Regions from separate parts of the Homo sapiens genome. Here region 1 is linked to region 2. The links come from fine-mapping of genetic effects on gene expression. A gene starts in region 2. The other region holds a variant in brackets. All regions are shown on one strand. Distances are from middle to middle. Region 1 has its middle 21 kb from the start of CTAGE6. Region 2 holds the start of TCAF2 (TRPM8 channel associated factor 2).

Region 1 (8,355 bases), 110 kb after region 2:
CTCATGTTCCGATAAAACCTGTAACTTCCTTTATATATCAGTCATCACATTTGTAATTATTTGTTTAAAATCTCTCTTTCCCACTACATGGAAGCTTCATAGGGGCAGGGACTAGACCTACCCTATTCACAGCTGTATCTACAGCCCCAAGGGCAGGGCCTGTCACATATCAGTTTTGGTGTAGGGGTCTATTGTATTAACACATTACTAACAAGAGTGTATGATAATGGGAGAAGACTAGATGAGGATTTCCAACTATTGTATATGTTTGCTGTCTTTAGGCGGATCACCTGAGGTCTGGCGTTCCACACCAGCCTGGCCAACATGACAAAACCCTGTCTCTACTGAAAATACAAAAATTAACTGGGTGTGGTGGCACATGCCTGTAATTCCAGCTACTTGGGAATCTGAGGCAGGAGAATCACTTGAATCCGGGAGGCGGAGGTTGCCCTGAGCTGAGATCGTGCCACTGCACTCCAACCTGGGCAAAAGAGTGAGACTCTGTCTCAAAAAAAAAAAAAAGAAAAGAAAAAGAAAGAAGAAGAAGAAGAAAAGACCTCTGTTATTTATCCCTATTCAAGAAAATGGTTTCACTATTCCAGAAAGAAGCTTTAGTGTGATTAGAACCATTCTCCTATTTTTAGCTTCTGAAAACAGGCTGCACTGTGAGAGTGAATTTTCCATTAATTCTTATTTCTCCTTTTCCTTGGGACTTGGTCAGTGAATAGTATAAGCTATTTTCAGGAGTTTCTGTATTTTGGTGAAAAAAGTATTTATCTGACATTTCCTGGGCCCTATTTCTACTACATTTCGATGTCAATTCCTCTCCTCTGCTAACATTTCCAGCCAAAGTTAACTACAGTGTAGATACTTTCATTTTGAATTAACATTTTTCCTGTTCTGCCATGTTATTAGGTTCTGGAACAGGGATATATCCCACAATAACAGTAATGACAAATTAAGACCCCCCTAAAAAAAATTCAAATTATTTTATATGGCCTCCCAGCTCCAAAACAAGGCAGCTGAGATGCCTATACATGGCACCTTCATACCGGTACATCTATCTGTTAGTCTCCATTTCTGTAGAAGAAAACAAAAAGATGCTATTAGCCTACTTCAAATTGTTGTTCCACTTTTGAATCTAACCTAGTTTCCTATGATAAGTTATTTCTTCAGGCCCCTAGGCTGTCTTCACCAGAAACTTTGAAATAGAAACCAGACCTTTCTGAGTATTGCTCAGGTACATCTCTGATACACTGATTCATCTAAGATCAAAAGTGCCCCCCGCTAATATGGCCTCAGCAGCACGTAGCTAGCACATGAACAGCAGGTCAGCCAAGACGTTAAATGTGGTCAAGGTTTCCAAAGAAGGAGAGCTACTTTTCAGTCAATGCTATCTCCTTATAGGCATGGCATGATTGCGTTTCTCAGGATATTATTTTCATGAACTTGTTCCTGCTGCAAGGTCTTTAGTACCATGCCTGGCTTCCATTTTGAAAAGCCTTCTTGTGCAAGATTGGTGCACTTCCCAGTTCTGGTAGGAGGACAGTTTGGTCCCGTACTCAGCTTGCAGAAGTTCCTACATTTTCTACACACAACTCTTTGTACTGATTCACTTTTCATTTGGGAAAGCCATGAGAAACTTTTTTCATAAAAAAATATAACCATCATCTCTATAAACTCTTCAAGATGATAAAGGGAGAGAGCATCATTTTGCAATGTTAAGCATAGGTTGGGAAAAATGGTGTTGAGAAAAAATTAAGATAGAAATTGTAAACTATCTCTCAAGCTGGAGATCTAGAGAACAAAGAAGTTGAGTAACAGATGGAGAGAAAAAGTCCTCACCCTGAGGAGTAACCAAGAGCTTACCTGAGGAACAGCTTCCCAGACACCACTTCAAATATCATATTACCTCATATCAAGAGGATAAACCCAAAGGCAGCCCAATGGAGCAGTTTGATAAGCCATTTCTGTTTTAAAATTCAATAAGAAAGATCCCTTTGTTTCTTTTTCCTAGGCTACCAACAAATTTATAAAATGTTCTTGAATGTATTGTCCTTTTCATCAAGAATAATCTGAAAAAAACCCAATCATCTTTATTGTGCAGTACAGATGGAAGGGGAGAATTAACAACAACAAAGCCACTGCTTTTTATTCCTAGGCCCTTAATAGCCCTAAAACAACTAACTGTCTGTATTAGTTCATTTTCACATTGCTATGAAGAAATACCCAAGACTGAGTAATTTATAAAGGAAAGACGTTTAGTTGGCTCACAATTTTGCAAGCCTGGGGCAGTCTCAGGAAACTTACAATCATCGCGAAAAGGAAAGCAAGCATGTCTTACATGGTGGCAGGTGAGTGATGAGAGAGCAAGAGAGAAACTACCAAACACTTAATAAAACATCGGATCTCTTCAGAACTCACTCACTATCACGAGAACAGCATGGGGGGGAACTGGCCCCCATGATCCAATCACCTCCAACCAGCTCTCTCCCTCAACACCTAGGTATTACAATTCAAGGTGATATTTGGGTGGGGACACAAAGCCTGGCCATATCACTCTCTGTTGCTAAAAAAGAAAAACTTAGGTGGAGATTTGGAAATTAAAGTCCAGTGTAATTGGCCCCACTGTGGAGAACCAAGCCATGCAAGGACACTCACAATGATGAAAAAAAAATTCTCAGCACTTAGGTAAGGCACTCAGTTGGAACAATGCTTTCCTGGGTCTGCAGACTGGAACCTAAGCAGCTGTGTGCTTCACTTAGATAAATACATATTCAATGCATGAGACTGATTCACCCTCACAAATGATACTTCTTTTAATAGGATCATGCAGTCTACTCCCAGCCACATAGTTTTTGTCTTAAATAACAAATCATTTGAACAGGTAGTTAAAATGAGGACCATTCAGGTTTGAATTAGTAAAGTTACATATGGGAAGATTCCGTGAATTATTGTAGCAGACGGGAGTTATAACAAAAAATATATTGTGCATTTATATAATTTCATAATCCCATTCAAGCAATGACCCTAAAAATCTATTTTCCAGACCACATTTACTCCCAAGGATATCAGTGTAAGTTAGGTGAATCATCAATAAACCGCTTCTTTTCAGAAACTGTTTTAAGTGCTTTTATATTTATTTATGCTCACAACATTCCTACAGAGTAAGTACAATTACACTCTTCATTTTGCTGAGAACTAGTAAGCTGTGAAGCCACATTTCCAACCCTAGAAGTTGGAGCCCACACTCTCAGCCAGCATACTGTCCTATGGAGTTACTGGATCTGCCATCGCCTGTAACTCTGCCTGCATTAGACTATGTGTCTGAATACTGAATCACAGAGCAAGCAGAGTCCAACTGCCAAAACCAATCAGGTTATTCCTAGTTACACAAAAAGCAGTTACTTTACAGTAAAGGTCATTCATCCAAGGAACACTTCGCTCAGGATATACAATTGATTTTTTTTCCAATACCAAGACCGTGTCCAACCTAGACTGGAGGGTTTTAAAGATTCTGCGATTCAAAATAAGAGCTTGATGGAGTCTTAGAGGAAGCAGGTCTTACACTCAAGGTTTTTATCCTTTTTAAGGATGCCCCAACTCCTCTCATTATGTCTAAAAGCATTGGATAAGGGACCACATACGTTCCCATAGGTTATTAGCTCCAATAGCTGTAAAATCTAAATTCCCAACAAACTGGAGACATTTCAAGAGGCAGAAATCACCCTAGAATACTTTAGGGAAATAATAATGGTCACTTTTAAGTTTTAAAGAAGTGGGTTTTTATTGTTGTTGTTGGTGGTGGTGGTTTTGTTTGTTTTTGAGATGGAGTCTCGCTCTGTTGCCCAGGCTGGAGTGCAGTCATGAAATCTCAACTCACTGCAATCTCTGCCTTCTGCATTCAAGTGATTCTCCTGCCTGAGCCTCCCAAATAGCTGGGTCAACAAG[T/C]GTTTGCCACCATGCCCAGCTAATTTTTGTATTTTTAGTAGATACAGGGTTTGGCCATGTTGGTCTCGAACTCCTGCCTCACATGATCCACCTAGCCTCGGCCTCCCAGAGTGCTGGGATTGCCGGCATGAGCAACAGCGACCAGCCTTAAAGATGACCCTACCTTTATTTAAAATGACCCTGCTTGTATTTCCTCCCCTGAATGCCTTAAAGTCCCTGACTTATTTGAAAACTTAGTATTTCGAAACAGTTTCAGAAAAAATTAAAGCCTTAGTGGTTGGTCACACTAAATGGGACCGTCAAAGCTCCTACTGCTCACAAATATTGTTAAAATGGAATAACACGCACTGCTAAAGGGAATTAAAGTCACTCCTATCTTGAATGAACCCTCGACATTTTAAGTTCTGTGTCCTCTGCATAGAATCTTTGTTCTTTGTCTCTCCCTTGTGGCCATTTAGAAAACCTTTCAGCTCCTGATCACCAGTTGAAACAGTGAAATTGTTCCCATTGTGGCAAACACAGTCTCTTGCCGTGGTTTTAATTTAAAAGAGATATTTATGTTACCCTTCCCATGAAGCAATTGACTGGTCAATATGCTCTCTACTTGTGTTATCCATAAAAATTTCCCAAACCAATTTACTTTTAGTGTCAGAAGATGCAACCCAACAATATTCTTTTTTTAATGAAATACACTGTGCTCATAAAAAATGTATCTAAAAGCATATGTACAATTTAAATAATAATTAGAAAGGGAACAATCAGATCAGCAACAGATTAAGAAATAGAATGTTGCCAATAATTGAAGTCCTCCATATGTTCCTCCAAGTTCATTGTCCCTCTCCTACCACCAGATGGAACACTAATCTGACTTCTGTGATCATTCCTTTTGCTCCTTTAGTTTTACTACCTATGTGCACAAACTTAAACTACATAGTTTAGTTTTAACTTGTTTTAAACTGTATAAGAATACAAGAAAGTTATATTATATGTAATCTTTTATGACTTGCTTCTTTAGTGCAATACTGTGACATCGTCTGTGTTGATTTGTGTAGCTCTACTTCATTTTTCTTTCTGCCTAATACTCAGTTATATAACTATAATACAATCAGTTAATCTATTTTGCTGCTGATTGGTTTTTGATTGTTTTTATTTGGGGCCTATCTGATACTACAAACATCCTTTACATGTATATCTGTGCGAGAGTTTCTCTGGCATACCCTAGGAAAGGAATTGCTGTATCGTAGAATATGCATAGCTTCAACCTTCTTAGATAAAACCAAGCTGTAGATAAAGACAAGTCAAAGATAAATCATATCACTTAGAGTATATGAGTTTCCATTGCTCTAGATCCTTAGGAACACTTGATATTATGAAATACTTTTTTTTCCAAAGTGATGAGTGCATAGTAATATATTATTGTGGTTTTAATTTGCATTTTCCTCATTACTAATGATGTTAAGCAGCTTTGCATATATTAACTAAACATTTGATTTTTGCTTTTATTTTGAAGTGCTCATTCCATTTTCTTGTGTATTTTTCTATCGGATTTTCTGTATGTCACAATGTTTTAGATATATAAACTTGGTCAGTTACATGTGTGGCCAACAGCTTTTCCCACTCTGGGCCAATTTTCACTCTTCTTGTGGTGTATTTTAATAAACACAACTTCTTAATTTTAAAGTAGTCAAAGTTATTAATCTTTTTTATGATTAATACTATTTGTACCATGAGTAAAAAAAATTGTTTACCCAAATTCCACAAAGAGATTTTTCTATATTATCTTCAAAGAGTTGTATAAATTTTTAAGTTTAAATGAGTTTTGGGCATAGTGAACTAGGAATACAACTGTAGTTTTTTAAAATATGGATTCCTAATTATAGCACTGTTCATTGAAAGGTTCACTCTTTCTGCCTCATCTACGGGGCCAAAAGTCTGGATCTGTGTGGATCTCTTTGCAGGCTCTCTATTCTTTTCTATTTTTTTTCTTCATCTCTATGCCAATGCTATACTATTGTAATATCTTCATAATAAATCTTGCTAATTATTCTACCTTAGTTTTTGTCAAGAACACACAATTATTCTTGGTTGTTTGTGCTTCCATTTAAATTTTTAAACCAGCTTGTTGCATTCCACTAAAACAAGTGAGTAAACAACTACAATAATGAAAAACCCTGTTGAGATTTTGATTCTAAGTAATTTTTTAAGAATATGCATCAATTAGTGGAGACTTGAATTTTTTTTTTTTTTTGAGGTGGAGTCTCGCTCTGTCGCCCAGGCTGGAGTGCAGTGGCACGATCTTGGCTCACTGCAACCTCCACCTCCTGGGTTCAAGTGATTCTCCTGCCTCAGCCTCCCGAGTAGCTGGGACTACAGGTACCCACCACCATGCCCAGCTAATTTTTGTATTTTTAGTATAGACAAGGTTTCACCATATTGGCCAGGCTGGTCTTCAACTCCTGACCTTGTGATCCACCCACCTCGGCCTCCCAAAGTGTTGGGATTACAGGCATGAGCCACTGTGCCCGGCCGAGAATTGATTTTTTAAAAATTAGTTTTCCAGAGGGGAGGAGGCAAAGCAAGATAGCGGAATAGAAGGCTCCATTGATAGTCTGCCCTGCCACCACAAGGACACCAGGTTAACAACTATCTACACAGAAAAAATACCTTCATACGAACCAAAAATCCGGTGAGCCCTCATAGTACCTGGTTTTAACTTCATATGGCTGAAACAAGCACTGAAGAGATAGAAAAAAAACAGTCCTAAATCAAGTATGCCACCCCTCCTGCACCCTTCAGCAATCATGGCGTGGTGCAGAGAGCGTCTCTAGGTGCTGGGGAAGGAAGAATACAGCAATTGTGAGGCATTGAACTCAGTGCTGTCTTGTTAGAGCAGAAAGGAAAACCAGACCAAACTCAGCTGACACCCACCCACAGAGGGAGCATTTAAACCAGGCCTAGCCAGAGGAGAATCACTGATTCCAACAGTTAGAACTTGAGTGCCTGCAAACTTCACCACCGAGGGCTATAACACTCTGTATCTCCAAGTAAACTTGAAAGGCAGTCTGGGCCATAAAGACTGAAACTCTTAGGTGAGTCCTGGTGCTGAACTAGGCCCAGAGACAGTGAACTGGGACTGCATGTGGCGTACAGAAACACTAGCTGGGGCAGCTAAGGGAGTGCTGGCTTCAACCCTCCCATAAACCCAGGCTGCACAACTTATGGCTCGGAAAGACCTCTCTTTCTTCCAGTTGAAGGTAGGAAAAGGGAGAGTGGGAAAGACTTTGTGATGCACCTAGGATACCAGCTCAGCTACAACAAAACAGGGCAACAGTCAGAGTCACGAGGTCCCCACTGCAGGCCCTAGCTTCCAGATGACATTTCTACACACACCCTGGGCCAGAAGGGAACCTGCTGCCTTGAAAGAAAGGACCCAGTCCTGGCAGCATTTATCGCCTGCTAACTGAAGAGCCCTTGGGCCCTGAATAACCAGCAGCAATACCCAAGTACTACACCAAGGGCCTTGGGTGAGCCTTTGAGGCTTGCTGGCTTCAGGTGAGACTCAGGATATTACTAGCTGCGGTGGCTCTGGGGCAAAACTTCTGCTTGAGAAAAGCAGAGGAAAAAGTAAAGGGAACTTTGTTTTGCACCTTAGGTACCAGCATGGCCACAGAAGGATAAAGAACCAGTCAGGCTCTCGGGGTCCCCAATTCTAGGACTTGACTCTTGGACAGCATTTCTGGACCTGCCCTGGGCCAGAGGAGCACCCACTGCCCTAACATGGGAGTCCCAGGACAGGTAGCATTTATGACAAGCTGACTTAAGAGATCTTGGGCTTTAAGGGAACTTTGGTGGTAGTCTGGCAGTACTCCTTGTGGCCTGGGTGGTGGTGGCTATGGGGTGAGGCTCCTCTGCCTTTGGAAAGGGGAGGCAAGAGTGGGAAGGACTGCATCTAGTGGTTAGAGTGCCAGTTCAGCTGCAATACAAGAGAGCACCAGGTAGACATCTAAGGGTTTTTACTCTAGTCCCTGACTCCCAGATGGCATTCTGGACCCACTTCTGGGGCTTAGGGGAGCTTGCTGCCCTGAAGGGAAGGGCATAGGCCTGATTGGCTTTGGCATTTACTGATTGTAGAGTCCCAAGGCCTTGAGGTAATGTAGGCAGTAGCCAGGGAGTGGTTACAGCAGACCTTGGGTGAGACCCAGTAAGCACTGGGCTGGCTTCAGGTCTAACCCAGAACAGTCATAGTGGTGGTGGCCAAAGGGGTGCTTGTGCCACTCCGCCCCCAGCTTTAGGTGGCACAGAACAGAGAGAGAGAAATTCTGTACATTTGGGAGAAAGTAAGAAAAGAGAATAAGAATTTCTGCCTGGTAATCTAGAGAATTCTCCTGGATCTTGTCCAAGACC
Region 2 (8,355 bases):
GTATGAGTTAGCCTGCCTGATTTAAGCTAATACAGATCTATCCTTGGAAATGGAGATGAATTCATTGTCCCCTGAATCTCATAAAGGAGAGGTGGATTATCTGATTTAAAAAAAAAATGGATTTGGTTAGAAAGGACAATAGGGGTAGTGTAGGGAATAGATGTTGAGGAGGCAACCACAGTGTTTACTAAATGGTGCTTTTAAAAAATCTTCCTCCACACTGTAGAATGGAATCCAAACTCCCTAGTATGGCAGCCAAAGTCCCTCTAAACCGAGCCCAAACTTCTCTTTAGAGCTAGCACTATGCAAGTTCTGCTAACAAGTTTCAGTCACTATGAACATTTTGTCTTTCTCAAATTAAGCCTTTCACATTCATATCTCTGTGCTTTGGAATCTTATACAGCCTCACATTGTAATACCTTCCCCTTTATCTCCCCGCAAATATACATTTTTCTAAGCTGAGTTTCTGTGTCACCTTCTGTGCACATTCTTCTCTAATCCTTTGATCAGAAATAATTGCTGCTTCTTTTATGTGCCCTTGCACCTGATTCGTAGCCAATTTTGGTATAGTTGTTTTCTTGTCTTTTTTCCTCTCTAGATTTACTGACCATAATAGCATTTCTATCTCCCAGAGTGCCTCACAGAATAAGTGTCCAGTAAGGATATGTTGACTTTCACTGAATGGCGTCTGTTTTCTCCCAAGTAAAAGGAAAGATCTGGGGCCTGCACCTTTGCATAAGCAGTAACCATTTCGAAGCTTATCCAACCCACCTTATTTTCGTTGTTGTTGTTGTTGTTCCGTTTTCTTTTATTTTAGGTTTCTAGCTGCCTGAACTCACGGTTTTTAGTTTCTGTCTCTAGTGAAAGGGGAAAAGAGGGATGAGGAAGGGGTTTTACTCGCCTAACCAAAAACAGAAACTAAGAACCCATGACTGTATTCTCTCTCGGACACCCTTTAGTCAGAACGTAAATGCTGGTTACCATCTTTAATCTTTTTTTTCTTCTTTTTTTTTTTTTTTTTTTTTTTTAGGAACCGTTATGCCGTTCCTATGTTGTTAGGTTCCATTCCTCAGGCAGCTCCTGCTCCCAAATGGCAGGTACTTTCTGCTCTCTGACCCTGGAAAAATCACCTTTGTTTAAAGCCCCTTTCTTCTATTAGAGCAACACCAAAATACTCTCAGGAGTTAATTTAGAACAATAGTAGTACTTTACCATGAGGAGTGAGGTTGATGTAGGTGGAGACTGGTTAAAACCTAAGAGTACAAACACACAAAAGATACCGAGCCAGCTTTTTGTTGTTGTTGTTGAGACGGAGTCTCGCTCTGTCGCCCAGGCTGGAGGGCAGTGGCATGATCTCTGCTCACTGCAACATCCGCCTCCCGGGTTCAAGCAATTCTCCTGCCTCAGCCTCCCGAGTAGCTGGGATTACAGGCCTGTGCCACCACGCCCGGCTAATTTTTGTATTTTTAGGAGAGACGGGGTTTCTCCATGTTGGCCAGGCTGGTCTTGAACTCCTGACCTCAGGTGATCCACCCACCTCGGCCTCCCAAAGTGCTGGGATTACAGGAGTGAGCCCCCGCACCCGGGCCTGAATCAGCTTTTAACGTGGAACTTTACTGACCCACTTTCTTTGATGTCCATCTCCCACTTCAGCTCCCAAAGGTCAGTTGTTCCCTGATATGAAGCCTAAGAACTCAACGTACTTCACCGCACGTTGGATTTCTAGCCGGAATTATTCCAAATTCTGGCAAGTCTTATCCACAATTTCTTTTCTGTGTAAGTTTCTCCTTGCTCTTTATTTCTGAAACCTGAATGTATTTGGTCCTCTGCCAATCAGATTTCCACTAGTCCTCCGAAGAGTCAGTTATTAACTCACTAATTCGACAGATATTTTTGGACGTTCACTATATCCTTATTTATTTAGCATATATTTAGTTATTTATTAAGAAACTAAAGCCTATTCTATGTCAGAAATGAAAATAGGCAATGAGGACTCAATGGTGGGCAAAATGCAGACAGACTACTTTTTTCCCCTCATTCTAGCACAGTCATCACTTTCCTAGGTAAGACGTTCCTAAACTCCAGACTACACCAAATCCTCCTCCTGACCACACCCTTCCACCTTGATTTTCACCTTCTGACCTCTCTTGCGTAGAAATTCGAGCACCAGCCACTCTATAGCTTTAGCTTAATTTCTCCAGCCATGCACGGACGAATCTGTGTTAGTGATGCCACAGGCACGTTTCCCTCCCAGCAAGAATATAACTTGCTGGGCAGCATTTCTGTGGATACTTTGAGAGAAAAATGCCCTAGTTGAGCACCCCGCACCATGGCCATAAGCATCCACCGGGCTCGAAGTGCATGGCCCGCAGCTGACCACTAGGGGGCAGCCCTCCACGCAGAGGCTCGAGCGACGGAGGCGACGCGGCGGCTACCGGCTCTGCTGAGCCCACCCCAAGATCGGAGGGAAGGGAGCCTGATTCCACGCGGGGCCTCCCCCGTGGCATACGTTGTTGTTAGGGAACTATTCGCCCCAAATATGGTTTATTGGAGACTTAGGGTTTGCTTTTCTTATCAAGTGCGACAGCAAACTGGCTGGGTCCCCTCTCGCATCCAAGAACCCGCAGAGACCCTGAGGGAGCCGGTTTGGGGCCCCATGCAGGCCAAAGCATCCCTCCGGGAAGGCGGGGTCGCTCACCTGGTAGGCGCCCCGAGAGCCCGCAGCACGGCCCGAGGTGGGGTCCACCGATGGAACGGGAGACCACGGGCGTGGCTCAGGGAGCGGTAGCCGCGCCCCGGGCCCGCCTCAGGGTCGGCTCCGCCTCACCCCAGCCTGTGCCCCGCCTCCGGGACAGCCCAGTTTCCGAGACCTCCTAGCCTCCAAGACAGCCCCGCCGCCAGAACAGCCTCTCCTCCAGGACCGGCCAGCCTACGAGAGAGCCCCGCCTACGGTACAACCCGCCTCCGGGACCGCAGGACTCCACCTCCGAGACAGCTCAGTCCCCAGGACAGTCCCGCCTCCGAGACGGCCCCGCCTCCAGGACGGCCCCTACCTCCGAGACCGCCCCGCCTCCGGGACCGCCCCGCCCCGCCTCGCCTCCGACCCGTCCCCCGCGCGCCACTGCAGAGCCTGTCCGTCAGTCCCTAGGTATCCGCACTGCTCAGGGGTGAGTTTTCCAATCCCAGCGGGTCCTGGGGTGGGGGCGGTAGCTGAGCACCTAGGGCACTGGGGGTCGCCGCAAAGTGCTGGAGGCCCCAGACCATACCCGGCGTCAGGGGGTGTCCCTCCCTTCTTAGGTCTAGGTCTTTGGTTTCATTTCGTTTTGTTAGTCTGGTGCTATTTGCAGTTTGTCTCAAAACACGTTTCTCCCTCCTATTTGAACTTGTAAATTACGAATTTGACAAAGATGTGCATGGTGTGTGCGTGCACGAGGGCACATTTCGTTGCGGAATGCTGGGTCAGCTTTCCGGGACATATTACTCATCTGAGGTTTTTTGTCTGTTTTTGTTTATCCTGTCAAACTGGTACTGCCCCAGAAGTGAAAGACGTCGCTTGTCTTCTGGGAGGTAGCTAGCACGATCTTGAGCTCAGGCTTCCGGATCTCTCTCGGCTGCTTTTTTCCACTGGTAACTTCTGAGGCTGAGATCAGGTACCCGCATTCTCAATGCTCTGCCGAGTATTGGCTCTCTTTTGTGAATTTCTTTCCCGCGAGCAGTATTAAGAAAAAGGTGGCGGATAGGAAGGGAAGAGGGGAAGAGATGGAATTCTACAGGAAATGCAGGGCATGCTCAGAATGCCAACCTTTCCGAGCTTGGAGAGATTTAGTGGAAGAAAGTAGCAGGAAAAACGTCCAGTAATCACTGGCATGCCAGACCCTGGAGAAGCCAGGCTGAGGCGCTCTGCAAGTTTCACCTTAGAGAGAGTGGACGAAATGTAACGGTTCTTGTTAGAGTTCTTGTAGAGGACGATTGTGGATGAGAATACATCCTGGGGACTAAAACCATATTGGTTTAGTCTGGAATGATTGCCAACTAAAGGGACTGATGTTTGAGAGAGATGGTGAGAGATTAACCAAATGAGGTGGTTGACTGCATATAGAAGCAGGAGGGAGAGAGGAAGGAGGCACTTGTGGCTCAAGGGCTTGGTGTGTGTTTTAGTTTAGATTCTGCCCTAAAGCAAAGCCTTATGCAAGGGCTTACCTGCAGGTAATTTTTTGGGGGTAAGTGAGACCAAAAAGCCCAAATGAGGAAGTGGAGAGAATGAGACAAGGAAAAAAGGGAAAGCCAGGAGGAGCATGTGGCTGAGGGTCTTCCACATGGCGCTCCTTTCCTCCGGGTGCCTTCCGAGGACCTCTGATGGGCACCTCGGGAAAGCCACGGGGCACTCTTCTGTGAATCCCCGCTCTACTGGGCGAAGCTCACCCTAGTGTCAACTCACCGCTACTTCAGGGCTGCCTTGTGCACCTGCAGAGGTGAGAAGCCATCAGAGCACAGAGGAAAGTCCCTTACAGTGGGCTCGTCAGAGACGCGCAAAGGGAGGCGGCACAGGCAGCCAGGGGACTACTGCACTACTGCAATCTGCAACGCTGCCCTCGGCAACCCGGGAAACTTAAAAGGACAGCAAAGGGACAGACACTCTCGTTTATTCCGTGCTCACTGTATGTGTACCAACCCCAGACAAGGCATTTTTAGACATATTCTTTGCTTTATTTTATTTTACTTTACTTTATTTTATTTTATTTTATTTTATTTTATTTTTTGAGGCAGAGTCTTGTTCTCTCGCACAGGCTAGAGTCCACTGGTGCGATATCGGCTCACTGCAACCTCCGCCCCCCACCGTCAGGGTTCAAGAAATTCTCATGACTCAGCCTCCCCAAGTGGCTGGGATTACAGGTGCACGCCACCATGCCCAGCTATTTTTTGTAGATTTAGTAGAGACAGGTTTCGCCATGTTGGCCAGGCTGGTCTCAAACTCCTGAGCTCAGGTGATCCACCGGCCTCGGCCTCCTAAAGTGCTGGGATTACAGACATAAGCCACTGCGCCTGGCCTATCCATATTCCTTTAATCTTCAAAAACAATCTTCCCATGGCTGTATTATTCTCTTTTTGTAGATGGGGAAACTGAGACTGAAGTCATTTATCCAAGAGGGGCTGCTTAAAGGGACAAATAGTCTCAGTGTTAGGCACAGCCAATTTTAAAAGACCTCCGGAAACTGCATAATGCTACCAAATAGAGGAGGGTCCTCTCCATTAGGGCAGATTTGATAAATTAGGGGGCACTTTCCAACTTAGCAAAGCTGTCAGAAGAAAGGCATGTTTTGACAGGTCTATGACCTTTCTGTTCAAAAAAATCAAGCACTGTGTCCACTCAGGCACACGAACTTAACTATCACCTTGATTTACTGGCCCTGCAGGATCTAGCCCGTCCCTCCCTCCTCCTGGGGTCCTGCTCCTCCCTGCTCCTGGCTCTCAGCCACCCCAAAGTGGTCTCGTTGCTGGAATGCCCTTTGCTCACTGCATTTCAGGTTTCAGCTTCAATGCCACTTTGTCAGAGTCCTTTCCTATCACCCAATCTAAAGTAGTCTTCCAGTTCCTCCATGTCACATCATTGTGTTTTATTTTCATCATAGTGATTGTTGCATTTTATTTATCTGTTTATCTACCTATTTATTCATTATCTTTCTCCTTCTAAAATATTCAAATCACGAAAAGGGAAACCTTATCTGTTTTGTTTCTTGCTGTACTCCCAGTGCTAGAACAGTGCTTGGCCCACAATGGGGAATCCAGTAAAATTTGGAGGTGAATGCATTTAGTTGTTTGCTTTTTTCACCTGTTCCTTCATCTGTTCTGACCAGCAGTGCTTATCAGTATCTCTTAAATACATGAAAGTCTTTGCTTCCCCCTGCAGCAGCTGATAGAACCATGGCGACCATTGCTGCTGCTGCGTTTGAGGCCCTCATGGATGGAGTGACATGCTGGGATGTCCCCAGAGGCCCCATCCCCAGTGAACTCCTTCTTATTGGAGAAGCCGCCTTCCCCGTGATGGTGAATGACAAGGGCCAGGTGCTCATTGCTGCCTCCTCCTACGGCCGAGGCCGCCTCGTGGTTGTGTCCCATGAGGGCTACCTGTCGCATGCTGGCTTGGCTTCATTTCTCCTCAATGCAGTGAGCTGGCTCTGTCCCTGTCCTGGGGCTCCCGTGGGAGTGCGTCCATCCCTGGCACCTCTAGTAAACATCCTACAGGATGCTGGGCTTGAGGCACAGGTCAAGCCAGAACCAGGAGAGCCCCTAGGGGTTTACTGTATCAATGCCTACAATGACACCTTGACTGCAACGCTGATCCAGTTTGTGAAACATGGAGGGGGCTTGTTAATCGGGGGCCAGGCCTGGTACTGGGCCAGCCAGCACGGCCCTGACAAGGTGCTCTCCAGGTTCCCTGGGAACAAGGTGACAAGTGTAGCCGGAGTGTACTTCACTGACACCTATGGGGACAGAGACCGGTTCAAGGTCTCTAAGAAGGTGCCCAAGATCCCACTCCATGTCAGGTGAGTGTTTGTTCCCCTCTTAGGGAGTCTGACTCAGGATAAACAATAGAGTTGGTTCCCCTCTTCAACAAGCTTCCATTGCAATACAGGTGATTTTCCACTCAGTTTGGAACCACCACAAATCAAAAGCAGGATGATTAAAATGCACCAAGACACAAGAGAGGCTGGGCCCTCACTGCCACTCCCTCCTGTGGCCAAAGCTGAATAGAAAAGCTTGTCTTACCACTTTATCTCCATGTCTAGTAAATAGAACCTAGAGAGTGCTCATCAATACCTCTTAAATGCATGAAAGAATATTTGTTTGTTTGTGTGAGCACCGATTGTTGATCATGCTGCATTCTGGACAATGGGGGTCTAGCAGAGATCGAGGCAGGCAAGTCATGCCATCATGAGGTTTGTATTCCAGGGGAGAGATAGGTATTAAGGAAACTAATATATATGTGCTCTATCAGGTATTGCTAAGATCCATGAAAGATGATAATATAAGTGGATAGCATGACAACAGGAAGGCTGATGGAGGCTATTTTATTTAAGATGTTCAGGGAAGTCCTATCAGTCAGACCAAGTTGGATTGGTCAGGATTTGTTGGCGTTGCTAGCAGAAGGGATTTAGTATGGGGAATTGACTATACCCATGATAGAGGAGCTGAAAATACACACAGGGGACAGCAAGTAACCCAGAGATCAGCAACAGCAGAACCAGCAGAGGGAGATGGTGGTATTACTGAAGTCCAGGTGCTGCGGCCACCTGGTAGAAGCTGGAGCCATGCTATGCCTTCCCAGCAGGAGCTGGAACCACAGATGAAAGGTCTGTCTGCTAGAAGCTGGAGTCTCAGAGAAGACACTGTGGTTACCAGAAATACAGCCTGAAGAGAGAAGCAAGCACTTAAACTCCTTCCTTCTTCCTTCCTGATTTCAGTCTTCTACCTCTCTCTCCCATGGGCTGAACCCACCAGGATCCAGGGAACAGGAGAACCAAAGAAATGCAGTTTTCTGCAACACGGAGGATGACCAAGATGAAAGGGGAATAGAGATGAGTGCAAACAAGCTCATGGCCGGCTTGGAAGGCTGGTCTGGTAGGTAGCACTTGAAAGGAGACCTCAAGGAAGTGAGGGAATGAGCCATGTGGGCATCTGTGAGAGGAAGATTCCAGGCAGAGTGAGGAGTGAGGGTGAGAAAACCTGGAAGGGAAGCCTGCTTAGTATGTTCCAAGGGAAAGGGAGTGGCCCTTCTATAAGGTCGGAAGGCTCTGCAAAGCTCCAGGGGAGAATAGCTGAAGGCAGCTGTTCTGTGACCCTGAGGCAGAGGGCAAGGAGTAGGTACAAGGGAGTGTAGGAGAATTTGTCTTGATCAAGCCTGTTTGTTTGAAGTTGTCCAGGAGCTGACATTTGAACATCCGCACACATGATGTTCTCTGAATGAGGAACAATAAATGTTAGTCATTTACAGATTGTGTAGGCTCCAGGCTTTCGGCATTATGCCTGCAGTAAATAAAAGCAAGCAGCTTCAGCTTCTCGGGGCTGCTCTCTGGCCACTACAGCCAGGCAGTCACCTAGCTGTTCTTACACTGCATACTTGTGTCTGAGTACTCATTTCATCCATTGGCCAGGGACACACCTGGCAATCAGGGAAGCCAGAATGATGGGAACTCAGTGAATGATAGCTCAGGTCATGTAAGAACTGACAGGCCAGGAGTAGAACTTTAGACCTTATTTGCAGTGAGATGGGAAGACATTTTGTATTCTCTACAGAAGATTGCTATGATGTGACTTAAATTTCAAAAGGAACCCTCTGATTGATGGTGGAGAACA

Evidence for each region.
Region 1: its variant is fine-mapped to the expression of TCAF2 in whole blood (TOPMed, PIP above 0.99).

The regions. Positions count from the first base shown.
Region 1 is chr7:143,732,829-143,741,183 of GRCh38, forward strand. No RefSeq gene overlaps it. Among named protein-coding and RNA genes, the nearest start is that of CTAGE6, 21 kb to the right of the region's middle. The variant T/C (reference allele first, on the strand shown) is at 3,952.
Region 2 is chr7:143,617,854-143,626,208 of GRCh38, forward strand. It overlaps TCAF2 (TRPM8 channel associated factor 2), which reads left to right and starts at 3,121. Exons shown (of 8, transcript NM_001363538.2): 1 at 3,121-3,167. LOC101928466 (a long non-coding RNA gene) reads right to left here and starts at 856. Exons shown (of 4, transcript XR_007060573.1): 1 at 1-856. RefSeq lists a silencer at 3,026-3,185.